Regions from separate parts of the Homo sapiens genome. Here all the other regions are linked to region 3. Evidence: fine-mapped QTL for protein levels in blood plasma. A gene starts in region 3. Each other region holds a variant in brackets. All regions are shown on one strand. Distances are from middle to middle. Region 1 has its middle 230 kb from the start of MIR548AM. Region 2 has its middle 53 kb from the start of MIR548AM. Region 3 holds the start of S100G (S100 calcium binding protein G). Region 4 has its middle 160 kb from the start of MAGEB17-AS1.

What was found. A credible set is the group of variants that fine-mapping cannot tell apart. PIP is the posterior inclusion probability: the model's chance that the variant is causal. Protein levels are from antibody-based Olink assays in UK Biobank. Linkage for the fine-mapping came from a reference panel and not from the study's own genotypes, which makes the PIPs less certain.
Region 1: its variant is the best candidate, but not a certain one, in a credible set for the plasma level of the S100G protein (UK Biobank, PIP 0.56).
Region 2: its variant is the best candidate, but not a certain one, in a credible set for the plasma level of the S100G protein (UK Biobank, PIP 0.60).
Region 4: its variant is the best candidate, but not a certain one, in a credible set for the plasma level of the S100G protein (UK Biobank, PIP 0.85).

What each region holds. Positions count from the first base shown.
Region 1 is chrX:16,397,798-16,406,112 of GRCh38, reverse strand. No RefSeq gene overlaps it. Among named protein-coding and RNA genes, the nearest start is that of MIR548AM, 230 kb to the left of the region's middle. The variant T/C (reference allele first, on the strand shown) is at 3,803.
Region 2 is chrX:16,569,660-16,577,974 of GRCh38, reverse strand. No RefSeq gene overlaps it. Among named protein-coding and RNA genes, the nearest start is that of MIR548AM, 53 kb to the left of the region's middle. RefSeq lists enhancers at 1-202, 1,716-2,219. The variant C/T (reference allele first, on the strand shown) is at 3,247.
Region 3 is chrX:16,643,016-16,650,797 of GRCh38, reverse strand. It overlaps S100G (S100 calcium binding protein G), which reads right to left and starts at 640. Exons shown (of 3, transcript NM_004057.3): 1 at 595-640. The region is part of intron 13 of CTPS2 (CTP synthase 2); the gene reads left to right.
Region 4 is chrX:16,319,586-16,327,900 of GRCh38, reverse strand. No RefSeq gene overlaps it. Among named protein-coding and RNA genes, the nearest start is that of MAGEB17-AS1, 160 kb to the right of the region's middle. The variant A/T (reference allele first, on the strand shown) is at 4,731.

The DNA.
Region 1 (8,315 bases), 240 kb after region 3:
ACTTAGGCACAAAAAGAAGCTGTTAAGTGCTAGGATTTTAGAAAATACCGTAGTTACAGCTTAGTGTGATCCACAAAGATTTGACTGTCTCCCTTATAGTATGGCCAGCTTTATACTGCATTAACCAGGCTCAAGAGATCAGAGATGGGGGGTACGTGGGGCAGGTTAATGGGTACCAAAAAAAAGTTAGATAAAATGAATAAGACCTACTATTTGGTGGCACAACAGGGTGACTATAGTTAATAATCACTTAATTGTACATTTTAAAATAACTAAAGGAGCATATTGGATTATTTGTAATACAAAGGGCAAATGTTTGAGCGGATGGATACCCCATTCTCCATGACGTGATTATTACACATTGCATGCCTGTATCAAAACATCTCATGTGTCCTATCAATATATACACCTACTATGTACCCACAAAAATAAAAAAAAAGAAATCAGAGAGTGGGGAGAAATTTTACTTATCTAGATTCATATAATAACTTGACCTCAGAGAACACAGAGTCAAGTTATCTCATATTATAAATGGAGGTAACTGAGGCCCAGTTAAGCCTTTAAGTGATTTTTCCAAGGTCACACAGCTAGTCAGTGGCAGAGCCAGTCCTAGGACCCAGTTATTGACCCAACATTTATTTAGCAAGTTATCAAGAGCCTTCTATGTGTAAGATACTGTGCTATATGCTTGGGATATAAAGCCATTAAATTGCAGTTTCTGTATATGAGGTGTTGACAGGTAAGAGGGGGAGACAAAGGATAGGAATCATACTCTAAGACATTCTGGATGTTATACACCATGTATAGTGGAGCCCAAAGGAGGGGAAAGTGGTGAAAGGGGTGAGGTCTGGGAAGACTCATCTGTTGCCCACTTTAGTGCTGCCTGTAAGCTCCAGAATTCAAAACATGGGAGCCACTTGACCCATTAAATAACACATCATTAAACGTGGAATTTCTTTCCTTTTGAATATAGTTAAGGATTTTCCTCTCACATATTTGGGGCATGTCTTAGCTTGTGTTTCCTGAAAAGCAGATCCTGAGACAAAGACTTGGGAGCCAATAATTTAATTGGGAGGTGATCCCAGGATACCCAAGTTAGGGAGTGGGAATTGGGGCAAGGAAGAGAGAAAAGCCAATAAAGGGTGAGTGAATGTGTGGATTACAACTGCAGATGACTGGGGCTCAATCTTATTGGGGATATTGGGAGACAATGTAGAGCACACCTCAAAATTGTCCCAGCCTGTGAAGGTGAACCTGAGGTGTGTATCCACTGAATCTGGCTCCGCCTTGGTTGATTTAATCTGAGGGTGTTAAATCTGAGCTTCTTGGTGCACAAGCTCTCTCGAAGGCAGAGGGATATGGGTGCTTGAAGCAGGGAGCTGTCAGGGAGCCCAGGGAACAGTCCACCGTAGCAGCAGGTGGAGTCTGAAGTGTCAGGAGGGGAAACGAAGCAGGGCACCAACAGCATCTGCCATGGGAAATTACCCTCACTTTTTCAGTGTTAAGTCTGAATATCTTCCGTGCAGGAATGTTTTCCTGTACTGTATCGTCAAGTTTACTGTTTGCCCCAGTTTTCCTGCTTCCCCCTCTACAATGCCTGTTTTTAGAAGCTTGTATCTTTGTTCCTGTTGCTGTAATCTTTTTTTTTTTTTTTTTTTTTTTTTTACCATTTTCATCCTTTTGTTCTTTCCCCTCATTATTTTTGGAGTGCTGTGTAAGTTTGCCTTATACATTTTTTATTTGTTTCCTAATGCAGATTCTGCTCTTTTGTTGGCTCTAGTGGATACTTCTTTCTTTGTAGTTTCCTTGGATTCTTTGCAATTTGTCCCAGCTCTTTCTTCACCCTTCTATTTTCATGCCAGCCTTGCATGCTTTTATTTCTTCTTTCATTGCCTACTTCACAGAGTTCAGATTTTCTTATATATAAGGATGGTGCAAACGTAATTGAGGTTTTTGCCATATTTTTGAGAACCTAACTTCTTCCTGTTTCCCCACAGTTGCATACTTTCTTGATCTTTGCTGCTCAAACTGTGGTCTAAGCACCACCAGCATCAGCATCACCCAGGGGCTTGTTAGAAATGTACATTTTCAGACTCCACCCCAGACTCACTGAATCAGAATCTGCATTTTAACATAACATGCTCCCCTGCCCCCACTGCCACCCTCCCCACTTCAACCAGGGATTTGTATGTGTCCTGAGAGTTGAGAAGCACAGGTCCCTGGTTCCCTGGGAAGGAGCCTGGGGCGTGATTAGGAGCACAGACCTTCAATTTTTATTTGAGTCCCAGCCTTGGCACCAATCAGCCATGTGACTTTGAAGATTTAATTATCCTTCTGGGACTTCAGTGCCTCTCTCATGGGGTGGCTCTGAAAATTAAGGTAGGTAAGTATGTGAAGTGCTAAGCAGAGTACCTGGAACATCAGCATTTGAAAAATAACTGCTATGTGATCAGGTTTTAATGTTGCAAAATATTTTTATTGATCTTTTCATGTTAAATTCTTTTATTCCCCACCTGTGAGTTCATCCTTGCAAGAAAGAGATCTAGCCTGACCTGAGTTTTGCAGAAGATGAGGTAATACTACTCTCTCTCTGGTTATGTTCATGGACCAATTGGGGTTTGTCATAATTTCTGCCTCAGATTGTAACTTGAGGGAGTGAGTTGATGGGTACAGGTCTTAGCCAAATTCTTGGTATCTATAATCCTAAGCGACTCAGAGGGTTGTTTTCCTGCAGAAAAGGTGTGACTCAGACCTATTCTCTCCAAGGTAGGGGTGGATATTGGGGGGTCAGTTACATTCCACTCCTTCCTATTTCCTCTCTGGCTCTGTCCTGTTTCGAAGGACTAGGAAGTGAATACGACAATTTAATGTCAAGCTCATCTCCCCTACGGCCAACAGAATTTCTACTAGTGGGAGGCAAGTCATTGATTGCTTTGCTCAGCTTCCAGGACTTCTGTGAAATAAAATGTCCTGTGCATCCATGGGTGTTCTGCAGTGATAATGGAAACTGAGGAGCACACAGTGCTAGCTAGCTGCCATCACACCTGGAAATTCAGAAGTCTTGCATTTGATCTGTGCTGACCTTTGTAATTTGAGTTTTATGCATCCCACATATTAATACATTATTCATCAGGAAATCCTTAAACTGCCTTTCATTAGCCAAATTGAAATTTAAGTATATCATCTGATGAGTGAGTATTTCAAGCCATCATATATTGGTGCTACCTGTCATTCATCCATCAGGTTTAAAAGCATCTCCATCTTTGCACAGCAGTGCTTGTGCCATTATTTGAATGTTTTATTATATTTTATCTTTATTATTTTGTAAAAATGTCAGTGAGAAAAGCCTAGATCTCAAACTCAATATAGATTCTTAAGCATGGTAAAAGCTGATAATCTTTATTTGGATGCTCATCAGACTTCATAGGTACACTATAATAATTATGATGAACATGAATAAAAATAATGAACATCTCCAAAATTCTGAAAATTGAAGTGTGTCAATATGTTGATGTGTTTTGGATTTTTCTAATTTTAAAATTTTTTGGGAATTGAATCCTCTTATGCTATCGTTTGACTTTGTCACATTGGAATTCACACACATGGATAGAATGACATCTTGATCAAACTACGAGGCTGTTATACTATAGTATTTATGATGCAAACATAGTTATGATTTTTCCTATATTTTTTCTCTAAGTTTAAGAACTGAAAAGATGGAAATTCCTATTAATTGATAAATACTCATGTTCTTTTTTTTCATGAATATGTGAAGTGGTTTAAATAGTTGCTTGTGGGTTTT[T/C]CCCCCCTGGGATATTGCCAGCACTAAATAAATGATTGAGGGCTTCGGGTAACTTTCCCTAGTTACTATTAACTTCATAACAATCACAGAATTACCAAACTAGTTTTATGATAATCCAGAGGCTAATACATCATTGACTAGCTTTTACAAATGCCGCGGCTTATTTTTTCCCCCATTCCATTCGGGAAAAGGCATTTTTGGGTCCTCAATTTTTGGTTGGAGAGTGGTTATTTTAGAAACAAAAATGGTGTTATCATTTTATATGGGTTCAGAATCCAAATTCAAGTTTCTCTATGAGCCCACGAAGGTCCCTGGTTTCTAAAAGTATTCTGATATGCCTAAAGGTGATCAGAAAGAGTCCTGTTAATACATGTTGGGACTACATGTGGAGTGAGATAGATGTGTTTTTCGCCATCTACTGTGTAATCTTGGGAAATATACTTATTATATGGGTTTCCTCATCTGTAAAGAGGAACTAATAAGGGTTAATTAGATATTAATCTAATAGGTTGAAGGTTGAACTAAACCAGTTTCACCTGGCCTATGGCACCCTTTTAGCAGCTCTTAATAGTTGTTAATAAAGTATCGATGGATTTAATTTATTCATTCACAAACTTAATCACCAACACCATTAGTAACTTTATTCTTCTCAGAAAACCCACTTGATGAGTTCAATGACTGAATGCTTGAGAGCTCAATGATAGGATGAACTCTCCTATCATTAGGATGTCCATGACTAAATATACACTGCAGTGGGTATAAGTGGGTTCTGTCAAGAGCCTATCTGTGTGTCAGGAAGGGCACTCAATATTTATAAAAACATTTTTTGCACTGTATTATCTTCGAAATAGGTGAATGATTTTTGACAATACAGCCTATAGACATGCTACAATGGCTTTCAAAATAATTAAGTAAGTTGAAGCTTAGAAACATGTACAATCCTAATTTCTGTTCCTACAATTATACTTACCTAGGAGTGCTGGAATAATCCTATAAAACCTTGCTGGACCATTTGTTTGTTGGGAGGCAATTCTCCAACGGTAATTTGCATTTCTGCACATCTGGGCGAATGCATTAACAGATTTGTGTTCCAGACTAACTTTTCAAGGACGTTTGCATAATGAGGAGCCTTAGAAGGTAGAGAGAGTGTCTCCCTCCAGAGCAGAAGGTAGATTTGTTTGCTGTCCAGGATAATGTGTCTCTCCAGGGCAGGTTTACTAGTAGCCCTCTTATCAAAGGTTGGGGTTTCCTAAGCTTGGAACTCCTTTCCTGTAATGCACCTGTAATGTATGTTCAGGCATCGTCTGGCCCTCATTGCATCACCCTGTGGAAACTGGGATTCAGGGAACCAGTGCACGTGATGTTATTTTAGCTGTGGCTATTGCTGTCCTTTGTCTCTGACCAGGAGTCTGGTCATTTTATGTGCACAGAAGATAGAGTATGGGGCTGGGGCTCTGAGAGATTTCATCCAGTTACTCCCAACCTTTGCATCCCTTTCTTAGCCCTCCACACAGAAGGGACCAAAGGCTAATAATCGGACTTCTGAGAGTCTTGTGAAGTTAAAGGAGATAATTCTTGCAGCACGTTAAGTGCAGTGTCTGGCACAGAGTAAATGCTCAATAAATCATAGCTATTTAATTTTTCTTCTATTAAAGGGCTTTGGATACATTTCCCCAAGGTTCATCTGAGTATGATTTTGGTTTTCTCTTAATTGATGGATACTTGTGTCTCTGATGATTGGAGTGGCCATTTGAAAATCAGGTCTAAACGACCTTTCAGGAATCATACCTAAACATTTTATATATAAAGAAGACACAGTAGTTATTAGTATGACTTATTCTATGCACTAGTTATTAGTAGTTTAGTGTGCTGGGTCTGAACAACTAAGACGGCATATCACTCCCAGAAGCTGATTGACAGTAGTTATTAGTATAGTGCATAGAATTAGTATTAATATAGTGCATAGAATAAGACAGATAGTCAGTATTAGATATGATTTTAATGAAGATGGTGGTGGTGATGATGGCTGTTAGTGTTACTTTCTCCTTCATTCAAATCACTTATTTCACCTTTTATTCTATTGTTCATCCCGGTTCTTCTCCACACGCTGGTTATACATACAATTTAAAGTTGCCTAAGCAGAGAAAAGGGAACCCTTATACGTTGTTGGTGGGATTGTAAATTAGTACAACCACTATGGAGAACAGTTTGGAGGTGCCTCAAAAAAGTAAAAATAGAGCTACCGTATGACCCAGCAATCCCACTGCTGAGTATATACCCAAAAGAAAGGATATCAGTATATTGAGGAGATACCTGCACTGCCACGTTTGTTGCAGCACTGTTTACGATAGTCAAGATTTGGAAACAACCTAACTGTCCATCAGCAGATGAATGGATAAAGAAGATGTGGTACATAAACACAATGGAGCACTATTCAACCGTAAAAAGAATGAGATCCTGTCATTTGCAACAAGATGGATGGAACTGGAGGTCATTATATTAAGTGAAATAAGTCAGGCACAGAAAGACAAACATCACATGTTCTCCCTTATTTGTGGGACCTAAAAATCAAAACAATTGAACTCATAGAGAGTAGAAGGATGGTTACCAGAAGCTTGGAAGGGCAGTGAAGGCATAGGGGACTTGTGGGGATGGTTAATGGGTACAAAAAATGGTTAGAAAGAATGAATCAGACCTACTATTTAATAGCACAACAGGTTTACTATAGTCAGTAATAATTGCACCTTTAAAAATAACTAAAAGAGGCCGGGCATGGTGGCTCACGCCTGTAATCCCAGCAATTTGGGAGGCCGAGGTGGGTGGATCACCTGAGGTCAGGAGTTCGAGACAGCCTGACCAATATGGTGAAACCCTGTCTCTACTAAAAATATAAAAACAGCCGGGCGTGGTGGCAGGCGCTTGTAATCCCAGCTCCAGCTACTCGGGAGGCTGAGGCAGGAGAATTGCTTGAACTGGGGAGGTGGAGGTTGCAGTGAGCCAAGATTGTGCCATTGCATTCTAGCCTGGGCAACAAGAGTGAAACTCCATCTCAAAAAATAAATAATAAATAAAAATAACTAAAAGAGTGTAATTGGATTGTTTGTAACTCAAAGGATAAATGCTTGAGGGGATGGATACCCCATTTACCATGATGTGATTATTATGCATTGCATGCCTGTATCAAAACATCTCACATACCCCATAAACATATACACCTACTATGAAACTGGATGCCTTCCTTACACCTTGTATAAAAATTAACTCAAGATGGAATAAAGGATTAAATGTAAAACCTAAAACTATAAAAACCCTAGAAGAAAACCTAGGCAATACCATTCAGGACATAGGCACGGGCAAAGGCTTCATGACTAAAACACCAAAAGCAATGGCAACAGAAGACAAAATTGACAAATGGGATCTAATTAAACTAAAGAGCTTCTGCTTAGCAAAAGAAACTATCTTCAGAGTGAACAGGCAACCTACAGAATGGGAGAAAATTTTTGCAATCTGTCCATCTGACAAAGGTCTAATATCCAGAATCTACAAGGAACTTAAACAAATGTACAAGAAAAAAACAACCCCATCAAAAAGTGGGTGAAGGATATGAACAAACGCTTCTTGAAAGAATACATTTATGTGGCCAACAAACGTACGAAGAAAAGCTCAACATCACTGGTCATTAGAGAAATGCAACTCAAAACCGCAAAGAGATACCATCTCATACCAGTTAGAATGGCAATCATTAAAAAGTCTGGAAACAACAGATGCTGGCGAGGATGTGGAGAAATAGGAATGCTTTTACACTGTTGGTGGGAGTGTAAATTAGTTCAACCATTGTGGAAGAGAGTGTGGTGATTTCTCAAAGATCTAGAACCAGAAATACCATTTCACCCAGCAATCCCATTACTGGGTATATACCCAAAGGATTATAAATCATTCTACTGTAAAGACACATGCACACACATGTTTATTGCAGCACTATTTACAATAGCAAAGACTTGGAACCAACCCAAATGCCCATCAATGATACACTGGATAAAGAAAATGTGGCACATATACACCATGGACTACTATGCAGCCATAAAAAAGAATGAGTTCATGTCCTTTGCAAGGACATGGATGAAGCTGGAAACCATCATCCTCAGCAAACTAACCCAGGAACAGAAAACCAAACTTCACATGTTCTCACTCATAAGTGGGAGATGAACAACGAGAACACATGGACACAGGGAGGGGAACATCACACACCAGGGCCTGTAGGGGGTGTTGGGGGAAAGGGGAAGAAGAGCATTAGGACAAATACCTAATGCATGTGGGGCTGAAAACCTAGATGGCAGGTTGATAGGTGCAGCAAATCACCATGGCACATGTATACCTATGTAACAAACCTGGACGCTCAGTACATGTACCCCAGAACTTAAGATAAATTTTTTTTTAAAAGTTACCTAAGTAGAAAATATTCAAGGAACTTAAAATTTCATAATGTGGAAGATCCTGTGCATTTGAGGAGCGC
Region 2 (8,315 bases), 73 kb after region 3:
TCCTAGGAGAGAAAAAACAACAGCAGCCGCCAAGACCATTTCCTGTAAACTGTGCTCAGCCACCCCTACTTTGTAGCTCTTGTCCGCCATTACACACACCAAGGTCAAATCTTCTCACAGTACATGGTAATCTCTGGTACCTCCAAAGCCAAAGAGGTCAGGTCAGGCAATACAGGAAAACAGAGCTTTCATCCTAAGAAGAATCTGTCCATGACTCTTGAAACTCCACAAAGAAAACAGAACACCCCCTACAAAGAGGTAAGTGGCACCTTTGTTCTGAATTCTTTAAAGGAGTTCAAGTCATTAGAAGCCTCCTCTAGAAGGGAAGGAGGTGTAGGGTGAAAGAAAAGTAAATGAAAGAACTTTTTTTTTTTAAGACAGGAAGCAAACACAGAAACCAAGGGCATTGTTTTTTGTTTTTGTTGTTGTTGTTTTCTTTTTTCCCTCTTTTGCAGCTGCAAGGAATTTGGGCCAAATTAGAGAGGCTTTGTTACCCATAATTTGGAATTCTCACTCAGATCGGACCAAGTCAGGTAGAGTTGGTCAAATCTGATGGGAGAAAGACCGGAATAAACAACAATAACAAAAAACCCCCAACATGATCACCGAGCGCTCTAACGGTAAAGAGAAATTAAGACCAGCTGGTAGTTAAACTTTAACCAAGACAAAACCCCAATTCAGCTACTTACCTAGGAATGGGTCTCAGGCTGAAGACTGCTTTCTACCATCCTAGAAGCAGGAAAAAAACCCTCAAACTCATCTTCCTTGCTGGGAGTGAGCTCAAACTCTATAAGGCAGTTACCTGCCTTCCATTGTCATGGAAACAGGAAATCCTACCTTCCTTGTTGGAAGCAAGGAAAACTCCAAAAAAAAAAAAAAAAAAAAAAAAAGGAGTTGTATAGCAAAATAAACTTTTGATCTCAAGCAAATTTTGGGGATTCTCTGGAGGGAGTGCTTCCAGACCTCAACAAATTGTCCTATTGGTTTGAGCCATAAAGTTAGCTCAGGCTGGTACCAAGCACTGATAGGAGATTTGCCTAAGGTCAGGGGCATCTCCACATATAATCCCTTCGTGGTTGCCAAAATATGAACCCCCAAAGTCTGAGACAAGTCTCAGTTAATTTAGAAAGTTTATCTTGCCAAGGTTGAGGACATGTGCCCATGACAGCCTCAGGAGGTCCTGACAACATGTGCCTAAGGTGGTAGGGGCACAGCTTGGTTTTATACATTTTAGGGAGACATGAGACATCAGTCAACATGTGTCTGGAATTGGTGGGCTCTTGGTCTCACTGACTTCAAGAATGAAGCCACGGACCCTCGCGTTGAGTGTTACAGCTCTTAAGGTGGCGCGTCTGGAGTTTGTTCCTTCTGAAGTTCGGATGTGTTCGGAGTTTCTTCCTTCTGGTGGGTTCGTGGTCTTGCTGGCTCAGGAGTGAAGCTGCAGAACTTCGCGGTGAGTGTTACAGCTCATAAAGGCAGTGTGGGCCCAAAGAGTGAGCAGCAGAAGGATTTATTGCAAAGAGCGAAAGAACAAAGCTTCCACATTGGGGAAGGGGACCCCAACGGGTTGCCACTGCTGGCTCGGGCAGCCTGCTTTTATTCGCTTATCTGGCCCCCACCCACATCCTGCTGATTGGTAGAGCAGAGTGGTCTGTTTTGACAGGGCGCTGATTGGTGCGTTTACAATCCCTGAGCTAGACACAAAGGTTCTCCACGTCCCCACCAGATTAGCTAGATACAGAGTGTGGACACAAAGGTTCTCCAAGGCCCCACCAGAGTAGCTAGATACAGAGTGTGGATTGGTGCATTCACAAACCCTGAGCTAGACACAGGGTGCTGATTGGTGTGTTTACAAACCTTGAGCTAGATACAGAGTGTGATTGGTGTATTTACAATCCCTGAGCTAGACATAAAGGTTCTCCAAGGCCCCACCAGAGTAGCTAGATACAGAGTGTGGATTGGTGCATTCACAAACCCTGAGCTAGACACAGGGTGCTGATTGGTGCATTTACAATCCCTTAGCTAGACATAAAGGTTCTGCACGTCCCCACCAGATTCAGGAGCCCAGCTGGCTTCACCCAGTGGATCCCGCACTGGGGCTGCAGGTGGAGCTGCCTGCCAGTCCCGCACCGTGTGCCCGCACTCCTCAGCCCTTGGGTTGTCGATGGGACTGGGTGCCGTGGAGCAGGGGGCGGCGCTCGTCAGGGAGGCTCGGGCCGCACAGGAGCCCACGGAGCGGGGGGAGGCTCAGGCATGGCGGGCTGCAGGTCCCGAGCCCTGCCCCACGGGAAGGCAGCTAAGGCCCGGCGAGAAATCCAGCACAGCGCTGGTGGGCCGGCACTGCTGGGGGACCCAGCGCACCCTCCGCAGCCGCTGGCCCGGGTGCTAAGCCCCTCATTGCCCGGGGCCCGCAGGGCCGGCCAGCTGCTCCGACTGCCGGGCCGCCAAGCCCACGCCCACCCGGAACTCCAGCTGGCCCGCAAACGCCGCACGCAGCCCCGGTTCCCGCTCGCGCCTCTCCCTCCACACCTCCCTGTAAGCTAAGGGAGCCGGCTCCAGCCTTGGCCAGCCCAGAAAGGGGCTCCCACAGTGCAGCGGTGGGCTGAAGGGCTCCTCAAGTGCCGCCAAAGTGGGAGCCCAGGCAGAGGAGGCGCGGAGAGGGAGCGAGGGCTCTGAGGACTGCCAGCTCGCTGTCACCTCTCAAACATATGTAAAATGAACATTGGTTCCATCTGGAAAGGCAGGACAACTGGAGATGGAGAGGAGGCTTCCAGGTCACAGGTAGGTGAGAAACAAATGGTTGCATTCTTTTAAGTTTCTGATTAACCTTTCCAAAGGAGGCAATCAGATATGCATTTATCTCAATGAGCAGAGGGATGACTTTGAATATAACGGGAGGCAGGTTGGCTCTAAGCAGTTCCCAGCTTGACTTTTCCCGTTAGCTTAGTGATTTTGGGGCACCAAGATTTATTTTCCTGTCACAAGATTAATGGAGAAATATGATAGGGCAAAGAGTATGATCTGGGGTAGTGAACTGGGGGAACTTAGCAAGGCTTGTTCATTCACATTCTTCTCTGTGTCCCTGTGTCTTCAGAGATAAGAATGCTCCTTTGCTCCAGCTGTAGGGACGGCACCTCTCACCTAGGGTCTTATGACCTCCGTCAGAGGAGAAGGGCAGGGAAAGGTCAGAGAGACCTTCCTGCTATTGTGGTTTCCTCAGATTTCTTCAGCTTCAAATACTTGATA[C/T]GCTGAAGTGACATATTTTGGAGTAGTATGTCCTGAGCCCCATCACAAGCAGCTTCTTTTTTAAAAAAATAATTTCAACTTTTATTTTAGATTTGGGGGTATATGTGCAGGTTTGTTACTTGGGTATATTCCATGATGCTGAGGTTTGGGGTACAAATGATCCCATCACCCAGGCAGTGAGCATAGTACCCAATTGGTAGTTTTTCTGTGCTTTCTCCCACACTCTCTCCCCAGTCTAATGGTCCCCAGTGTCTATTGTTCCCATCTATTTTCATGTGTACTCAATACAAATAGCTTCTGTTCTTTGAGACTGATGTCCCTGAATATCACTAAAAGATGATGGCAAATTCCATGGACGTCATTCAGTTTCATTGCTCCTGAGTGAGGCCCACTTTCCATCCCTGTGGCTTTGTCTGTATTACCTGCTTCCTCTGAGACAAATAACAGTGAAAAGCTGGGGAATCCAGTTGATACCATTTGATCATAGAGCTCATTTTTAAGCTTGAGTGTTGTCTTAAACTTTCATCTTTTTCTTCGACACGAAATTGTTTTGAAGATAGATGTATTGTTTCGATTTGTTTTCTCTGAGGGAGACTATGCTTTTAGTCAATATGCTGGGAGAATTCTATAGAGTAAGATAAAAGCCTAGAACCTGGAGGATGGAGCCAGCATCCCAGGAAACTAAAGTTTTCCAGGCTGAATCATCCTCTCAAGGGGATTCTCTGAACTAGAGAAACCTCATCACATGCCACAGACCAGGATGATGAGACTACTTGTCATGATAATCACTTCTGTAGAGAATTTAATGGTAAGAGATTGATATTTGGATAATTTATATGATCTACATTTCTGGAATAGCAATTTCTGAGTTGATTTGCACAATTGTTTCAGTGTCTTCAGAGGTAAGAAGATGCAAAAGTAATTTTCAACCCAGAATGTGACTTCTTTGTTGCCAGCATTGATTCATACCAAGATTTCTGATAGGATGAGATTTTTCTTTTGTGGCTTTTGAAACATCTTTGCTTTTCTGAGGGACTATCACAGACCCTATGGTTTTATCTCATAAACTAGATGTTTTTCTCCTGTTCCCCCCATTATCTTTCCTTTTTTCCAAACTTCCTAAGCATAATTCTTTTATAATTCTTTTTTTTTCTTTTTTCTGTTTTTTTTTTTTTTTTTTTTTTTTTTTTTTTTTTTGCGATGGAGTCTTGCTCTGTCGCCCAGGCTGGAGTGCAGTGGTGTGATCTTGGCTCACTGCAACCTCTGCCTCCCGGGTTCAAGAATTTCTCCTGCCTCAGCTTTCCAAGTAGCTGGGATTACAAGCATGCATTTTCATGCCTGGTTAATTTTTTCTATTTTTAGTTGTGATGGGGTTTCACTGTGTTGGCCAGGATGGTCTCGAACTCCTGGCCTCAAGTTATCCACCCACCTCAGGCTCCCAAAGTGCTGGGATTACCAGCATGAGGCACTGTGCCCAGCCCTAAGCATAATTCTTTACTTGAATTAAAAGATTTATTTTAACCTGTTTAAGAATGAAAAAGTAAAGAGCATGATTACAAATTCTGTATCATACAAAGGAGGCGTTATTTAAAGATGTGACTTCCCCCACCTCCTACCCCTAACAGGCTCAGGCCTGCCTATTTTTGTAAATAAAGTTTTATTGGAACACAGCCGCACCCATTCCTTTATGTCTATGGCTGCTTTCATGCTACAAAAGGAGAGTAGTTGACACAGATTCACAAAGCCTAAAACTTTTACTATCTGACCCTTTACAGGGAAAGTTGGTCAACTGCTGATCTAAAGGCTGTGATGCAAGAAAATCTTTTTCAAGGCTTCAGTAGAATCCAAGTTTTAAAACCCTTTTTTCTATATAGTGAAGATAGTCTCTTAAAAAGGTTTTAAAAGAATGTATGACATGAGGTTCCAAAATAAAAGGTCACAGAAAAGTCTCTCTTTAACCTCTGTCCTCAACTACTTTGTTCCCTTCCCTGGACGTCATGTTACCAGACTGTTCTGGGTTCTTCTAAAGACATATCACACAAAAATGATTTTTTTTTCTATATTGTTCAAGCGGCATTCTTATTTCAGGTGAGATTCTACTTCTCTATTTAGTGAAAAAGATAACTATGAGAGATACTAAGGAAAAATGTACAGGGAAAAGGCTAATAATTAGTTCAGACTGTCACAGGTATTGTACACACATTGATGGGCTTGACTCTGAATGATGCAGCAGAGAATACAGAAGACCTGTAAGATATGATCCAGCTGGGGAAGGCCTTAATACAATGCTTGAACCAAGTCCTGAGAGAGGAGTAGGAATTGAGTAGATGCATCATTGTATTGTAAATGCAGGCAAGACCAATTATTAGCTAGCATCCCAGACACTTACCAAAGATGCTCCTCAGGCCCAGTGTGTCCAGCTTCTCAAAAAACGTTGCCCAGAATCAGAGCATCCTGAAAGTTGTGAGTCACTGTGAAAGCTGTCACTCTTCTTATTAACAGGCAGAGACATCCCAGGTTTTAGAAGAGCTCCAAGATCCCCTTTCTCTTTCCTTCTTTACGCTAGCTGCTCTGTAGACCTATGCTATCCAAAAAATATAATGTGAGTCACCCACATGCATTACTCGAAATTTTCTAGCAGCTGTGTTAAAAAGTAAAAAGAAACAGGTGGGTTGGGCACAGTGGCTCGTGCCTGTAATCCCAGCACTTTGGGAGGATGAGGCGGGCAGATCACTTAAGGTCAGGAGTTCAAGATCAGCCTGGCCAACAGGATGAAACTTTGTCTCTACTAAAATACAAAAACTAGCCAGGTGTGGTGGCATGCACCTGTAGTCCCAGCTACTCGGAAGGCTGAGGCAAGAAAATCACTTCAACTGGTGGAGGTTGCAGTGAGCTGAGATCACACTACTGCACTCCAGTCTGGGAGACGGAGTGAGACTCTGTCTCAAAAAAAAAAAAAAAAAAAGAGGTGAAATTACTTTTAGTAATTGAGTAATTTTAACCCAATATATCTAAAACATAGATTCCAAGATGTAATCAATATAAATTTTACTAATGGAATATGTTACATTCCTTTTCCCATATCAAGTCTTCAAACCTTGGTGTAAATATGACACCTGTAGCATATCTAATTTCAGACTAGCCACATTTCAATGCTCAATAGCCACATGTGGTAATGAAACGGGAAAAGTTCCCTTGTCCCCCTTGCAGGGTGTGCCATGGGGTTGTGGCTTGCTTCTTCGGTGCCCCGCTTGTGGTACCCCTAGGGGAAGCATGCAGATGGGCAGGTTGTGGAGAGCGTGGGCTCTGACCCCACAGCAGCATCTAGGGTTGAGTGTTTACAACTCCCGAAGCCCCAGTGGGCGTGTGTTACAATGCGCTTTTTCAGTTTTGCCGTCCACAGGCAGCTTGTGTTAATCAGCTCAATTAGACCCTCTGTCTTATTGCAAGGACAGAAGGCTTTCTGTATCCCGGGTTCTTGCCTTAGTGTACTGGAAAAATCGGATCACACGTGGGCCTTATTGAATGGCGGAAGTAGCTCTCAGCAGATGGATGGGGAGCCAGAAGGGGGATGGAGTGGGAAGGTGGTTTTCCCCTGGAGTCAGGCTGCTTTGACCACCCTCCACTGAACTCCGTGTCATCCCACCATTCTGCAGTCCATGGCTTGCCAGAGTCTGTCAGTGTGTTCTTCTGCTGGTGTGTTTTTCTGCCCCTCTGCTTCTCTAGATGTCCTGCCGCTTGTGTGCTCTTCTGCTGGTGTGTTCCTAGCTGCTTGTGTCTCTGCCCACTAGGGTCCCAGGGTTTTTATAGGCACAGGATGGGGGCATGGTGGCCCGGGGTGGTCTTGGGAAATGCAACATTTGGGCATGAAAACAGAAATTCCTGTCCTCACCTAGGTCCGTGGGCACAGGCCTGGGGGTGGAGCCCTCACCAGGGACCCCATCCTTCTCCTCCCAGCACTTCCCTGTCCTCCTACCATATCAGTAAGTGACAACAGATTGAAAAGCACAGCTTTAGACTCTGTAAAAAGGGATGTGCAGTGTTAAAGAAACATTTTTCAATGTCACTTGTTAAACAACAATAAGGCAGCGCCTGGCACCATGGCTCATGCCTGTAATCCTAGCACTTTGGGAGGCCAAGGCAGGAGGATTGCCTGAGCCCAAGAGTTCGAGACCAGCCTGGGCAACATGGCAAAACTCTGTCTCTACAAAAAGCACAAAAATTAGTCAGGCATGGTGGTGGATGCCTGTAGTCCCAGCTACTCGGGAGACTGAGGTGGGAGAGTCACCTGAGCCCAGGAAGGTTGAGGCACAGTAAGCCATGACTGCCCCACTGCACTCCAGCCTGGGCGATAGAGTGACACCGTTTCAAAACAACAACAACAACAACAACAACAACAACAATGACAACAACAAAAACAAGGCAGACTTTATTCAAGGGGAGGGGGACTATCATGATTGGTGTAGGGATCACTGCTATGGGGTCTTGCTGTGGGGGAGAGAGACTGGGCTCAGTTCCAACAAGGACAAGGGGTGATTTGTAACCAAGGGTCAGAGTAGGGTCAGTAGATGGAATATTACTAAGAGGAAACACAGGGGTAAAGGGGATTCTTCTAGACCCAAAAGAATTCTTGCTGAAGGCAGGCCAGGGTTGTAAGATATCAAGGGTGGCAAGATACCAAGGGTGGAGGGTTTTCACTAAACTGACTTAGGAGGATTCTTGTGCAAACTGAATTCCACAAGGACAGAGAGGGAAGCCCAAGGTCAGGCCTAGTCGAGCAGAGGGCTCAGAGGAGCTTGACTGTAGTTAAGTCAAGGAGAGAGTCTTTGCCAGCAGATCTACCACTTGCTCATGGCAGAATCCCTGGGTATAATTCACAGAGCACAAGAATATATATTAAAATCTTAAAGCATCTAACCTTTGGTTATGTATATTTTCATGTTTGGGATGAAACCAGTATGAAATGGACATGTATGAGACCTGGTATTGGGTGTAGTAATCTGTCATCTTGCTTGTTTCTTCCAGCAGCTCCCCAGGCCCCCTAGCCCTACCACACTGCCTCTGGGTTT
Region 3 (7,782 bases):
AGCTCATGCCTGTAATCCCAGCACTTTGGGAGGCCAAGGAGGGTGGATCACTTGAAGTCAGGAGTTCGAGACCATGGAAGCCTGGCCAACATGGTGAGACCCTGTCTCTATACAAAAATTAGCCAGGCGTGGTGGTGCGTGCCTATAGTCCCATCTACTTGGAAGACCGAGGCAGGAGAATCGCTTGAACCCGGGAGGCGGAGGTTGCAGTGAGTGCGATGCCACTGCACTCCAGCCTGGGTGACAGAGCGAGCCTCCGCTGCAAAAAAAAAAAAAAAAAAAAAAAGACATCTTAGATAGTATGTTAAATGTCTGTTCTTAGAGTACATCTGTTAGGAGATGGTCCCTGGAGCCAAACATTTTTATTAGTAATTAATGACATTCTACACTTTTTATGTACCTGATCTGCACTCTGCAGGCTGTGGTCTTGAAGAATACTTGACCACAGCTTCTAGCTTCTAAGTTACAGGGAATATCTCCAGATGGCATAAACTCACCTTCTCTCCAGACCATTATCTTTCACACCATTCTAAAAGGAAGCAGAGTATTAATGCAAACAGAAGGAGCTCTAGGTAGTACCAAAATCACACTAACCTGGTTGCCCAATAGTGAAACAGCTAGAAGAATCAAAGAGGAGTTTGAAGAGCTGAGCAGAATCATGACACTTTTATAGTCTTTACGGGCACGCCACCCTGATTATGAAAATTTCCTTTTGTTGGCCATTTAAGGGTAATTATTAATGGTTTTTGAAACTCAGGCTTAAGACTGCATGAACCCCATAATTAAGGGCAAGATCCAGTAAAGGTCCATCTCGACAGTTGCTTCATGGTTCAGAGTCGTAAGCTTGGATTTTTTTCCCCCTGAGATTATATTTTCCCTCCAATGTAGAATTATATTTGCTCACAGTTCACATTTCATAAAGCTTAGATATAGAGGATTCTTTTCAATTTAGTTGCATATTTAGGCTTTAAAAAATAACTTTCTTCATATCCAGAAAAAATAAATGCTGCCCTGTGCGGTAGCTCATGCCTGTAATCCCAGCACTTTGGGAGGCCGAGGCAGGAGGATTGCTTGAGGTGAGGAGTTTGATACCAGCCTGGTCAACACAGCAAGACATTTCTACTGAAAAATTTAAAAAATCAGCCAGGTGTGATGGTACATGCCTGTAGTCCCAGCTACTGTAGAGGCTGAGGTGGGAGGATTCCTTAAGCCTGGGAGGTTGAGGCAACAGTGAGCCATGATTGTGCCACTGCACTCCAGCCTGGGTGACAGAGTGAGATCCTGTCTGTAAAAAAGAAAAAATGCTGTCATAGAAGGACAATATTACATAGTTTAAAAAATTACGGTATGGCCATTGAAGTCCTTCTGATGTCTTTACATATTAGCAGCTTAAATATTTGAATACATGAATGAATGAATGGAAGTATTGCTTCAGAAGCAGGTTTAAGAAGTGGAAAGAAGATACTCAGTAATTTGTGGTTTTATTTGGCAAATCAATATTGAGTAACATGGTCATTTTTTCAGCTCTTTCATTATTTGTTGGTCCTGTGTCTGCTTTTTATTTCTCATTATCCTTTTCCTTACCAAATATATTTCGTGATCATTCGAAAAACTTGTGAGAACACTCGACTTACTCTTGTTCAGTTGGAAATACTTCAAACTTTTTGTAACTGCCATGATTTAAAATTGCCAAGGAGATTGATTTCTACTGGAAAGAGTTCCATGAAATAAGTAGGACATTTCCAAGGGACATTGATCTAATGCTGATTGTAACTCACAGGAAGGGGTTCCAGGTGGATTTTAAGAGCACTTTACAGCTTTGAAACACTTGTACACTTCCACACTTATAGAATTTTCCCTGACTCTGCCTTATATCACCTACAAACTGAGGACTGGACTATTGGGACTGTATTTCTCCCTGATGTTTCTCAGCTCTAAAATTCTAGGGCCTTATTTACATTGGAGAACAAATGGGAAATCTAATAGAATTCCTTAAAAGCTTCCCGCCAGTCTTGAGCATTTATCATTCCATGTGTCTTTGCTGTCTTGTATATATTCTTCTTGTTTTTATTATGGATTCTTTGACTTTGCTATGCACCAATATAGAATATGTATTAACTCACTGGTTGGAGTAAAGACAGGCATTTTATTTTTAGTTATAAGATTTTACACAAAAATATTCTGATTTTGGCAATGCATTTTAATCAAGATTTTAGAAAATTGCCAGTGTTTTTACACATATGTTCTGTTTTCCTGGGAGGAAGTAGGCGTTTGTGCTTAATCATAACAAGAACTATCTTTTTTTAAACATCTTTTAAAAAATATTTCAGATCTACAGAAAAGTGGCAAGAATAGTGCAATGAACACCAGTCTGCCTTTCGACTAGATTCACTAATTGCGAACATCTCCACATTTGCTTTCTCTTTCTCTGGACAGATACTTTCCTCCACCCCTGAGTCATTTGAGAATCAATTACAAACATCCAGATGCTTCCCCCCTGAGCACCTCAGCATCTGTCTCCTAAGGACAAAGACATTCTCCTATGTAACCACAATGCCATTATCATAGCCCACGTCAAATCTCTCCAATTGTTGAATAGCATCTTAAATCATCTTTTCTCTCAAATTACCACTAGTGAGCTAAAATCAAATGGGGTGTTTATTATGTTTTGCATCTGGTTTTTTTGTTTATTTTTTTGAAGCCACTTCACTGTGTCACTCAGGTTGGAGTGCAGTGGCGTGAACACAGCTCACTGCAGCCTCAACCTCCATGGGCTCAGGTGATCCTCCTACCTCAGCCTCCCGAGTAGCTGGGACTACAGGCATGTGCCACCATGCCCGGATACATATATATATATTTTGTGTATTTCTTGTAGAAAAATACAACATGGGTTTTGCCATGTTGCCCAGGATGGTCTCCAACTCCTGGGCTCAAATGATCTGCCCGCCTCAGTCTCCCAAACTGCTGGGATTACAGGCGTGAGCCACTGCACCTGGCCTATTTTTTGCATCTGAAGAAATGATTTTAATAACTATATGTCATCTTAGTAACGATATAGGATGAAAGATAACATGTTCTATATAATACACCCATATATTACATATGACGTGTGTATGTATATATAAAAATTATCTCTAAGAAAAACTTTTGGAGCAGTATTGGTTAATAGTCTTCTAGGCTACAAATCTCTTCTTTCAAGGGACAACTTCTGATTAGAATCAGCCCAATGCGGCCGGGCACGGTGGTTCACGCCTATAATCCCAGCACTTTGGGAGGCCGAGGTGGGCGGATCACCTGAGGTCAGGAGTTCGAGACCAGCCTGACCAACATGGAGAAACCTCATCTCTACTAAAAATACAAAAATTAGCCAGGCGTGGTGGTGCATGTTTGTAATTCCAGCTACTCGGGAAACTGAGGCAGGAGAATTGCTTGAACCCGGGAGGTGGAAGTTGCGTTGAGCTGAGATCCTGCCATTACACTCCAGCCTGGGCAATAAGAGCGAAACTTTGTCTCAAAAAAAAAAAAAAAAAAAAAAAAAAAAAGAATGGGCCCAATGCTGCCTATTGTCAGAATTTATACTTGTAGCGAATGCTAGCAAAACTTGAACTTGAAAAACAGCCTGTGCGGCTTCTTAAGTTTTTACTTGCTCACTTCTACCAGTCACATCTCTTGTCTCTTATTTTTCTCTTTACCCATAGACTTAAAAGCATGAGGGTAAACTTGCACTTGGAAGCATGAAAAATCCACTAATAGATACTCTTGTGAAACATTAACTAAAAATATATGGAGACAAGTGATAATTACAGGGTGTGTTCACAAGAGTGCGTTTTGAAACCAGAGAAGGGGGGAAACGACAGGCACAAGGGTGGTAATGGGAAAATGGAGAGGCAAAGGTTATTTATCACCTCACTGTTCAATTGTTTGATCTTTGGACAGGCTTAATTTTTCCTAGGAAAGCCAAGAGTAACATATTTTAAGAGCTCTGGGCACCACAGGCTTCTGTGGGTTATTCTGCTTGAAGGTGACAGCATGCAATGTCTTGAAAAGCACCTTCAGGAAGAGGGTACAGTGTTAGTACCTGGTCCCTGCAAAACAAAATGGGTGTGAAATGCTATCCATGGGTTCTTGTTATCTTTGATCCTGAAGTTTAAAAGAGACCTTGAATACTCAAATGCTGCTTTCCCAGAAAGTATAGCTTGCTTGTCACCTGACCTGGTGTCTACCTTCCCTGGACCTTCAGACAAAGTTCACTTCCAACCTTTGCCTGGGCTGTGAGGCTCACTGTCTTTTGGGTCAGCCTGTGCTCACCTTCAGCAGTTGAGTTCCCAGAGGTCTCCTGACCATAGCCTGTGCTTCTTGAGTGCGTATCTTTACTATGGGCAGTGTGCTGACCTAGGCACCCAACTCCCACGGCCTCCTTAAATCCTTGCTGCAACTTTATGAAGTGGATGCTGTTGGTCCCCCCAGTCTGTAGAGACATCCAAGGACCTGCTCAGGGTCACACTGCTGGTCAGCAGTAGAGCTGGGATTCAAGTTCAGGCCCAGCCTGCACCCTCAACCACCGTGCCACATGCCCCTCCCAGGAGAAGGGCTTCTCTGAGGACAACCATTGTATGTTAACATTAGGACCACAGGTAGTATCACACTTAAGTGTTAGGTTTACATCTGGAGGTATAAGAAGGTTCTTTTTCTGAGGTGTAAGAAAGTTCTTTTCCTGATGAAAATGATATAGGCCTTTGTCTGTTTTGCACTGCTATAACAGAGTACCTGAGACTGGCTAATTTATAAAGAAGAGAAATTTATTTCCTCACAGTTCTGGAGGGTGGCTGGGAAGTCCCAGATCAAGGTGCTGGCATCTGGTGAGGGCCTTCTTGCTGTGTCATCATGTGGTAGAAGGCATCACATGGGTGAGAGAGAGGGAAGGGGACTGAACTCATCCTTTTACCAGGAACCCATTCCCATGATAACTAACCCATTCCAATGATAATGGCATTAATCCATTCATGGGGGCAGAGCCCTTATAACTTAATTGCTTCTTAAAGATTCCACCTCTCAACACTGTTGCACTGAGGATTAAGCTTGCAACACATCAACTTTGGGGAATGCATTCAAACCATAGCAGCTTTCTTTTACTGGTGGGGAAAAAAACAAGTTTAAAAGACTGGAAAAATACATACGTACTTATGGGACTGCTCATTGATTTCCTCATTGTAGATTCCATTCTCACACTACTTGGTGACACAGCAGCGCAGGTTGGAAGCCAGAAATGGGAAATAAACTGCTTCAGGTTAGAGGCAGGACTCTGTCAGGCAGGACTGGGCATAGTGTGTACTCGGCCTCTGAGTAGGGCACCACCCCTCCCTTCCCGTCTGCTGAAGAGACTCACCTGCAACTTGGGACATCCATGAGTATCTCAGACACCCCTCTGCTACTCTGTGGCCCACTGACCCATCCCTTAGTCTCCCCTGTTAGTTTTTAATACACTTAAAACACTGTGAGATTCCAGGCCGGGTACAGTGGCTCATGCCTGTAATCCTAGCACTTTGGGAGGCTGAGGCGTGTGGTTCACAGGGTCAGGAGATCGAGACCATCCTGGCTAACACGGTGAAACCCCGTCTCTACTAAAAATACAAAAAAAAAAAAAAAAGTTAGCCGGGCATGGTGGCGGGCGCCTGTAGTCCCAGCTACTCAGGAGGCTGAGGCAGGAGAATGGCGTGAACCCGGGAGGCGGAGCTTGCAGTGAGCCGAGATCGTGCCACTGCACTCCAGCCTGGGCGACAGAGCAAGACTCCGTCTCAAAAAAACAAAAAACAAAAAACACTGAGAGATTCCATTATTGAGTACTTGATCTGAACTTGACACTGTGTCGAACTCCTCAGTGGAGATGGAAAATAAAAAGATCTAATCCTTGTGCTTGATGAGCCTACACTTAATTTATGAGAGGAGATGCATTTATGAAATAATAGAGGAAGTTAAAGCTGTTTGTAGTAAATAACGGTATTAGATTCCTATGGCTGTTGTAACAAATTACCACAAACACAGTGGCTTAAAACACATATACATTTCTTCTGGAAGTCAGAGATATAAAGTGGGTTGGCAGGGCAGTGTTCCTTCTGGAGGGTGTACGAGAGAATCCATTTCCTTGCTTTTTCCAGCTTCTAGAGGCCACTTGCCCACGGCCATCCTCCATCTTCAAAGCCAGCAGCATAGCATCTTCCAGTCTCTCTGATCTCTGCTTTGTGGTCATATCCCCTTTTCTGACCCTGACCCTCCTGCCTTCCTGTTTTAAGAGCCTTTGTGGTTACAATGGGCCCACCCTGATAATCCAGAATCTTCCCTTCTCAAGAGCCTCAATTTACAGGCTGGGCATGGTGGCTAATTCCTGTAATCCCAGAACTTTGGGAGGCCAAGGCTGGAGGATCATTTGAAGCCAGGAGTTCCAGACCAGCCTGGGCAACATGGCGAAACCCCATCTCTACAAAAAAATACCAAAAAATTAGCCGGGCATGGTGGCATGCACCTGTGGCCCCAGCTACTTGGAAGGCTGAGGTGGGAGGATCACTTGAAGCCAGGAGTCAGAGGCTGTAATGAGCTATGATCATGCCACTGCACCCCAGCCTTGGAGACAGAGTGAGATCCTGTCTCAAAAAAAAAAAAAGATCCTCAACTTAATCACATCTGCAAAGTCCCTTTTGCCACAGATTCATAGGTTTCAGGGACTAGGATGCGGATATCTTTAGGGTAGGGGAGGCATTATTCAGTCTCCTACTATGAGTTACTGAAAATGAATTGATGATGTATAGGTTATTTATTTGGTAGGCTGAGCATAACAATGGCATTAATTATGAGGCAGTAAGGGGAACTGGAGGGGGCCCCTAAAGCATGAGGAATGGGAGGGAGAAGGTATCTTGGGAAAAGTAGAGAAGGAGGTGGTCTGTGTGTAGTATGGTGGTGGGTAGGAGAGTGGAGGTGCCATTGACAATGGCCCCAGCTAGCTGTGGTAGAAGCTACAGGTTCGAATACATGAGGAGGGCATGGCTAGTCTGGGCTCCTGTGTGAGGTAGGACCTGAGAGCCACCCAGAAGAGTTTAGGTTTAGTCTGTAGTGATGGAGGCTGCTGGAGCTAGCAGTGCAACCCAACATTAGGGAAAGTAATGCTGATGTAAAACTGCTTGATACTTTATGTACAATTTGAATATGACTTAGAATCAAAATCAGAATCAGGCTTGAAAACCTAATGAGCAGTAGGAAAGGAATGAATTGGAGAATACTTGTAAAGAATACTAGAGGAGGCCGGGCGTGGTGGCTCATGCCTATAATCCCAGCACTTTGGGAGGCTGAGGTGGGCGGATTGCTTCAGCCCAGGAATTCAAGACCAGCCTGGGCAACATGATGAAACCCCGATGCTACAAAGTGGAAAAAAAAAATGCTAGAGGAAATTGCTGTATGTTGCCTAAGAGTCTGGAAATAGAAATAGCTGCTGGTGAGTAGGCTTTCCCTTTGTCTCCAGGTGAAATATTCAACGATGAGGAACAAAAGGAAAGCTGGGCTTACCAGGGTAGGTCAGGTAGGTCCAGTCAGGAATTTCACTGTTGCTAAGAGAACCTAACTCCTGTAGACTTTGTTGTTTAAGGCACCTGGGATGCTGTAAAGTCTTGAACTCATTACACTTTTATTATGGGCTGCAGAAAACATCAGTAAAGGTTAATTAGTGCCATATTTATCCTTACATGCTGATTTTACATCTCCTAAAGCTTTATCACTTATTGATCCTTTTTTATT
Region 4 (8,315 bases), 320 kb after region 3:
GAACTTCTATACTATATTTTAGACCATTTCACAAATACCATTATTATTCCATTACAATAAATGTTAAAGGAAAGGTTGGTGTATTATTTTGTTTGTTTGTTTTTATTATTATTATACTTTAAGTTTTCGGGTACATGTGCACAATGTGCAGGTTAGTTACATATGTATACATGTGCCATGCTGGTGTGCTGCACCCATTAACTCGTCATTTAGCATTAGGTATATCTCCTAATGCTATCCCTCCCCCCTCCCCCCACCACACAACAGTCCCCAGAGTGTGATGTTCCCCTTCCTGTGTCCATGTGTTCTCATTGTTCAGTTCCCACCTATGAGTGAGAACATGTGGTGTTTGGTTTTTCGTCCTTGAGATAGTTTACTGAGAATGATGATTTCCAATTTCATCCATGTCCCTACAAAGGACATGAACTCATCATTTTTTATGGCTGCATAGTATTCCATGGTGTATATGTGCCACATTTTCTTAATCCAGTCTATCATTGTTGGACATTTGGGTTGGTTCCAAGTCTTTGCTACTGTGAATAGTGCCGCAATAAACATACGTGTGCATGTGTCTTTATAGCAGCATGATTTATAGTCCTTTGGGTGTATACCCAGTAATGGGATGGCTGGGTCAAATGGTATTTGTAGTTCTAGATCCCTGAGGAATCGCCACACTGACTTCCACAATGGTTGAACTAGTTGACAGTCCCACCAACAGTGTAAAAGTGTTCCTATTTCTCCACATCCTCTCCAGCACCTGTTGTTTCCTGACTTTTTAATGATTGCCATTCTAACTGGTGTGAGATGGTATCTCACTGTGGTTTTGATTTGCATTTCTCTGATGGCCAGTGATGGTGAGCATTTTTTCATGTGTTTTTTGGCTGCATAAATGTCTTCTTTTGAGAAGTGTCTGTTCATGTCCTTTGCCCACTTTTTGATGGGGTTGTTTGTTTTTTCTTGTAAATTTGTTTGAGTTCATTGTAGATTCTGGATATTAGCCCTTTGTCAGATGAGTAGGTTGTGAAAATTTTCTCCCATTTTGTAGGTTGCCTGTTCACTCTGATGGTAGTTTCTTTTGCTGTGCAGAAGCTCTTTAGTTGAATTAGATCCCATTTGTCAATTTTGGCTTTTGTTGTCATTGCTTTTGGTGTTTTAGACATGAAGTCCTTGCCCATGCCTATGTCCTGAATGCTAATGCCTAGGTTTTCTTCTAGGGTTTTTATGGTTTTAGGTCTAACGTGTAAGTCTTTAATCCATCTTGAATTGATTTTGGTATAAGGTGTAAGGAAGGGATCCAGTTTCAGCTTTCTACATATGGCTAGCCAGTTTTCCCAGCACCATTTATTAAATAGGGAATCCTTTCCCCATTGCTTGGTTTTCTCAGGTTTGTCAAAGATCAGATAGTTGTAGATATGTGGCGTTATTTCTGAGGGCTCTGTTCTGTTCCATTGATCTATATCTCTGTTTTGGTACCAGTACCATGCTGTTTTGGTTACTGTAGCCTTGTAGTATAGTTTGAAGTCAGGTAGCGTGATGCCTCCAGCTTTGTTCTTTTGGCTTAGGATTGACTTGGCCATGCGGGCTCTTTTTTGCTTCCATATGAACTTTAAAGTAGTTTTTTCCAATTCTGTGAAGAAAGTCATTGGTAGCTTGATGGGGATGGCATTGAATCTATCAGTTACCTTGGGCAGTATGGCCATTTTCAGGATATTGATTCTTCCTACCCATGAGCATGGAATGTTCTTCCATTTGTTTGTATCCTCTTTTATTTCATTGAGCAGTGGTTTGTAGTTCTCCTTGAAGAGGTCCTTCACATCCCTTGTAAGTTGGATTCCTAGGTATTTTATTCTCTTTGAAGCAATTGTCAATGGGAGTTCACTCATGATTTGGCTCTCTGTCTGTCTGTTATTGGTGTATAAGAATGCTTGTGATTTTTGTACATTGATTTTGTATCCTGAGACTTTGCTGAAGTTGCTTATCAGCTTAAGGAGATTTTGGGCTGAGACAATGGGGTTTTCTAGATCTACAATCATGTCATCTGCAAACAGGGACAATTTGACTTCCTCTTTTCCTAATTGAATACCCTTTATTTCCTTCTCCTGACTAATTGCCCTGGCCAGAACTTCCAACACTATGTTGAATAGGAGTGGTGAGAGAGGGCATCCCTGTCTTGTGCCCGTTTTCAAAGGGAATGCTTCCAGTTTTTGCCCATTCAGTATGATATTGGCTGTGGGTTTGTCATAGATAGCTCTTATTATTTTGAGATACGTCCCATCAATACCTAATTTATTGAGAGTTTTTAGCATGAAGCGTTGTTGAATTTTGTCAAAGGCCTTTTCTGCATCTATTGAGATAATCATGTGGTTTTTGTCTTTGGTTCTGTTTATATGCTGGATTACATTTATTGATTTGCATATATTGAACCAGCCTTGCATCCCAAGGATGAAGCCCACTTGATCATGGTGGATAAGCTTTTTGATGTGCTGCTGGATTCGGTTTGCCAGTATTTTATTGAGGATTTTGCATCAATGTTCTTCAAGGATATTGGTCTAAAATTCTCTTTTTCTGTTGTGTCTCTGCCCAGCTTTGGTATCAGGATGATGCTGGCCTCATAAAATGAGTTAGGGAAGATTCCCTCTTTTTCTATTGATTGCAAGAGTTTCAGAAGGAATGGTACCAGCTCCTCCTTGTACCTCTGGTTGAATTCGGCTGTGAATCCATCTGGTCCTGGACTCTTTTTGGTTGGTAAGCTATTGATTATTGCCACAATTTCAGAGCCTGTTATTGGTCTATTCAGAGATTCAAATTCTTCCTGGTTTAGTCTTGGGAGAGTGTATGTGTCGAGGAATTTATCCATTTCTTCTAGATTTTCTAGTTTATTTGCATAGAGGTGTTTATAGGATTCTCTGATGGTAGTTTGTATTTCTGTGGGATCGGTGGTGATATCCCCTTTATCATTTTTTATTGCATCTATTTGATTCTTCTCTCTTTTCTTCTTTATTATTCTTGCTAGCGGTCAATCAATTTTGTTGATCCTTTCAAAAAACCAGCTCCCGGATTCATTAATTTTTTGAACGGTTTTTTGTGTCTCTATTTCCTTCAGTTCTGCTCTGATTTTAGTTATTTCTTGCCTTCTGCTAGCTTTTGAATGTGTTTGCTCTTGCTTTTCTAGTTCTTTTAATTGTGATGTTAGGGTGTCAATTTTGGATCTTTCCTGCTTTCTCTTGTGGGCATTTAGTGCTATTAAATTTCCCTCTACACACTGCTTTGAATGTGTCCCAGAGATTCTGGTATGTTGTGTCTTTATTCTCGTTGGTTTCAAAGAATATCTTTATTTCTGCCTTCATTTCGTTATGTACCCAGTAGTCATTCAGGAGCAGGTTGTTCAGTTTCCATGTAGTTGAGTGGTTTTGAGTGAGTTTCTTAATCCTGAGTTCTAGTTTGATTGCACTGTGGTCTGAGAGACAGTTTGTTTTAATTTCTGTTCTTTTACATTTGCTGAGGAGAGCTTTACTTCCAAGTATGTGGTCCATTTTGGAATGGGTGTGGTGTGGTGCTGAAAAAAATGTATATTCTGTTGATTTGGGGTGGAGAGTTCTGTACATGTCTATTAGGTCTGCTTGGTGCAGAGCTGAGTTCAATTCCTGGGTATCCTTGTGAACTTTCTGTCTCGTTGATCTGTCTAATGTTGACAGTGGGGTGTTAAAGTCTCCCATTAGTATTGTGTGGGAGTCTAAGTCTCTTTGTAGGTCACTCAGGACTTGCTTTATGAATCTGGGTGCTCCTGTATTGGGTGCATATATATTTAGGATAGTTAGCTCTTCTTGTTGAATTGATCCCTTTACCATTATGTAATGGCCTTCTTTGTCTCTTTTGATCTTTGTTGGTTTAAAGTCTGTTTTATCAGAGACTAGGATTGCAACCCCTGCCTTTTTTTGTTTTCCATTTGCTTGGTAGATCTTCCTCCATCCTTTTATTTTGAGCCTATGTGTGTCTCTGCATGTGAGATGGGTTTCCTGAATACAGCACACTGATGGGATTTGACTCTTTATCCACTTTGCCAGTCTGTGTCTTTTAATTGGAGCATTTAGTCCATTTACATTTAAAGTTAATGTTGTTATGTGCGAATTTGATCCTGTCATTATGATGTTAGCTGGTTATTTTGCTCATTAGTTGATGCAGTTTCTTCCTAGCCTCGATGGTCTTTACAATTTGGCATGATTTTGCAGTGGCTGGTACCAGTTGTTCCTTTCCATGTTTAGTGCTTCCTTCAGGAGCTCTTTTAGGGCAGGCCTGGTGGTGACAAAATCTCTCAGCATTTGCTTGTCTGTAAAGTATTTTATTTCTCCTTCACTTATGAAGCTTAGTGTGGCTGGATATGAAATTCTGGGTTGAAAATTCTTTTCTTTAAGAATGTTGAATATTGGCCCCCACTCTCTTCTGGCTTGTAGAGTTTCTGCCAAGAGATCTGCTGTTAGTCTGATGGGCTTGCCTTTGTGGGTAACCCGACCTTTCTCTCTGGCTACCCTTACCATTTTTTCCTTCATTTCAACTTTGGTGAATCTGATAATTATGTGTCTTCAAGTTGTTCTGCTCGAGGAGTATCTTTGTGGCATTCTCTGTATTTCCTGAATCTGAATGTTGGCCTGCCTTGCTAGACTGGGGAAGTTCTCCTGGATAATATCCTGCAGAGTGTTTTCCAACTTGGTTCCATTCTCCCCATCACTTTC[A/T]GGTACACCAATCAGATGTAGATTTGGTCTTTTCACATAGTCCCATATTTCTTGGAGGCTGTGTTTGTTTCTTTTTATTCTTTTTTCTCTAAACTTCCCTTGTCGCTTCATTTCATTCATTTCATGTTCCATCACTGATACCCTTTCTTCCAGTTAATCGCATCCGCTCCTGAGGCTTCTGCATTCTTCACGTAGTTCTCGAGCCTTGGCTTTCAGGTCCATCAGCTCCTTTAAGCACTTCTCTGTATTGGTTATTCTAGTTATACATTCGTCTAAATGTTTTTCACAGTTTTTAACTTCTTTGCCTTTGGTTTGAATTTCCTCCCGTAGCTCGGAGTAGTTTGATCGTCTGAAGCCTTCTTCTCTCAACTTGTCAAAGTCATTCTCTGTCCAGCTTTGTTCCATTGCTAATGAGGAACTGTGTTCCTTTGGAGGAGGAGAGGCGCTCTGCTTTTTAGAGTTTCCAGTTTTTCTGCTCTGTCTTTTCCCCATCTTTGTGGTTTTATCTACTTTTGGTCTTTGATGATGGTGATGTACAGATGGGTTTTTGGTGTGGATGTCCTTTCTGTTTGTTAGTTTTCCTTCTAACAGGACCCTCAGCTGCAGGTCTGTTGGAGTTTGCTAGAAGTCCACTCCAGACCCTGTTTGCCTGGGTATCAGCAGCGGTGGCTGCATATCAGCGGATTTTCGTGAACCGCGAATGCTGCTGTCTGATCGTTCCTCTGGAAGTTTTGTCTCAGAGGAGTACCTGGCCATGTGAGGTGTCAGTCTGCCCCTACTGGGGGGTGCCTCTCAGTTAGGCTGCTCGGGGGTCAGGGGTCAGGGACCCACTTGAGGAGGCAGTCTGCCTGTTCCCAGATCTCCAGCTGCGTGCTGGGAGAACCACTGCTCTCTTCAAAGCTGTCAGACAGGGACATTTAAGTCTGCAGAGGTTACTGCTGTCTTTTTGTTTGTCTGTGCCCTGCCCCCAGAGGTGGAGCCTACAGAGGCAGGCAGGCCTCCTTGAGCTGTGGTGGGCTCCACCCAGTTGGAGCTTCTCAGCTGCTTTGTTTACCTAAGCAAGCCTGGGCAATGGCGGGTGCCCTTCCCCCAGCCTCGCTGCCGCCTTGCAGTTTGATCTCAGACTGCTGTGCTAGCAATCAGCGAGACTCCGTGTGCGTAGGACCCTCCGAGCCATGTGTGGGATATAATCTCCTGGTGCGCCGTTTTTTAAGCCCGTCGGAAAAGCGCAGTATTAGGGCGGGAGTGACCTGATTTTCCAGGTGCCGTCTGTCACCCCTTTCTTTGACTAGGAAAGGGAACTCCCTGACACCTTGTGCTTCCCGAGTGAGGCAATGCCTCACCCTTCTTCGGCTCGCGCACGGTGCGCTGCACCCACTGTCCTGCACCCAGTATCTGGCACTCCCTGGTGAGATGAACCTGGTACCTCAGATGGAAATGCAGAAATCACCTGTCTTCTGCATCACTCACACTGGGAGCTGTAGACCAGAGCTGTTCCTATTCGGCCATCTTGGCTGCCCTCCTCAGTACTTGATGTTTCTATCCTGTCATAAATGGCATCGCTTTGAAAACATTTTATTTTCTAAGCGTTTGTTACTAGTATGTAGAAATTCAATGTATTTTATATGCTGATTTTATATATAGAAATATTGCTAAGTTCACTTATAAATTCTAATATAGATGCTTTTGGATTATCTATGCAAACAACTATAATGTTTAAAAATGTCTGCATCATTACAAAATAGTTTTGTTTCTCCCTTTAGAATCCTCATACCTTTTATTTCTTTATTTTGCCTCATTGCACTGCACGATGTTGAATAGGAATCGTGACAGTTGGCACACTGGGTTTTCTGCCCAATCACAATGAAGAAGCTTTAATGTTTCACCATTAAGTATTGCTTGCTGTTTTCCTTCTTTTTTCCCTAGATAATCTTTAACCAACCTTCAAAAACATTTTTAAATGTCACCTCATTTGGGAATATTTCCATGAGTCATTCAGTCTGAGTTATATTCCCTTTCTCTGCCTGTGCATCCCACTAGCACAGTACTTACTCACCCTGTATTCTAAGTGATTGTTTGATTCTTCCTGTAGCTAAAGAATTTCTTGTGACTAACAAAGTGCCTAGCCCATAGAAGAAAATTGAAACTACCTTTTCAAAAATTATAACAGTGAGAAAAATCTGACCTAACTGGCTCCATCTTGCTTCTAACTTCCAAGTTGCCCTTATTCATTCCCGGGTATGGGCCAAGCTAACTATGGGAGGAATTTAGTATACAGTTTAACTTTAAAACAAAGATGATAACAGTTCCTTCCCAAAACGAATCCCATCGTTGCTCAGTGACTGCAACTGCCTTTGTAAAACTAACAAATTAACCATAAGGTTAGAATTGTGGTTTAGGAGTCATATAGCTGGAGATTACAACATTTAAAAACTCCCCAATTGCTCCTATAGCTAATATCACTATTGTAAAACCTAAGATTGGTGTTTGAGTTACTTTCCAGACCCTATGATTTCATCCTCGACCCAACCAATTAGCATTCTCCATTCCCTAGCCCTCTGACCACTAAATATTATTGAAAAACCCTAGCCTCCATGCTTTTAGGGAGGCAGATTCGAGAAATGTCTCCCATCCTTCCACTTGGCTGGCCCTGCAATTATCAAACTCTTTCTTTCTCTACTGCCATACTTTGGTCTCAATGAATTGGCTTTATCTGTGTGGTGGGCAAGAAGAACCCAACAGGTTCTGCACAAATGTGAATTACAAAATGAATAAGTATCCATTGAATGAATGATGAAGATGGTGCATTGTGGTTTTTCTACATGTGGCTTTTAAATAATTGCTACACTCTATTTTTGTTATGGGGAGGAGAATCTATGAAATAGAATTGGGCCATGTTAGCCCTATTATAAAGTGTTATACACCAAGGAGAACATCTAACTATGGCCAAATGTGTCTGTCTGGTTTTCTTCCCTCCCACTGGGAGAGCCCAGTGGGAGGATTTATACATCCCCACTCTAGTGAACTTCAGAGAGGTCATAAGGTTTCCATTCGCCAACAAAATACAGATGGAGATTACATGAGTCACATCCAAACAGAAGCTTTAAAGGTAATCATGTGAGGCACCATGCCTTTTCTTTTTGTCATGTCTAATGGCAATGTTTTAATGGCCATGTCTAATGGCCAGTGGTCATTTTGCTACTGTAAGGGGCAAGGGAAAACTTTCCCTTTGCCTTCCGAAGGTTCATGGAGAAATCAATTGAAAAAAGGCAGATTAACAGGAGAAAAGGCATACAAATTTATTAACATGTATGGGGAGAACCACAGTGATTACTCAACCCTCCCCTCAATGGGATATAGAAGATTCTATATCTTCTTCAGGTTACAGAAAGAATGGGGGCTCAGAGCATGGCCCAAAACAGGTTATGGTGGCAAATCAGGTTATGGTAGTAAGACTAGTTATGAGGGAGAGAAGAGGAGGCCTGGCTAGCAAAGGTGGTCTTGTTATGTAGATGAAACCTCACAGGTAGCAACCCTCAGAGATAATAGATAGTAAATGATTCTTTCAGACCTATAAAGATGTCA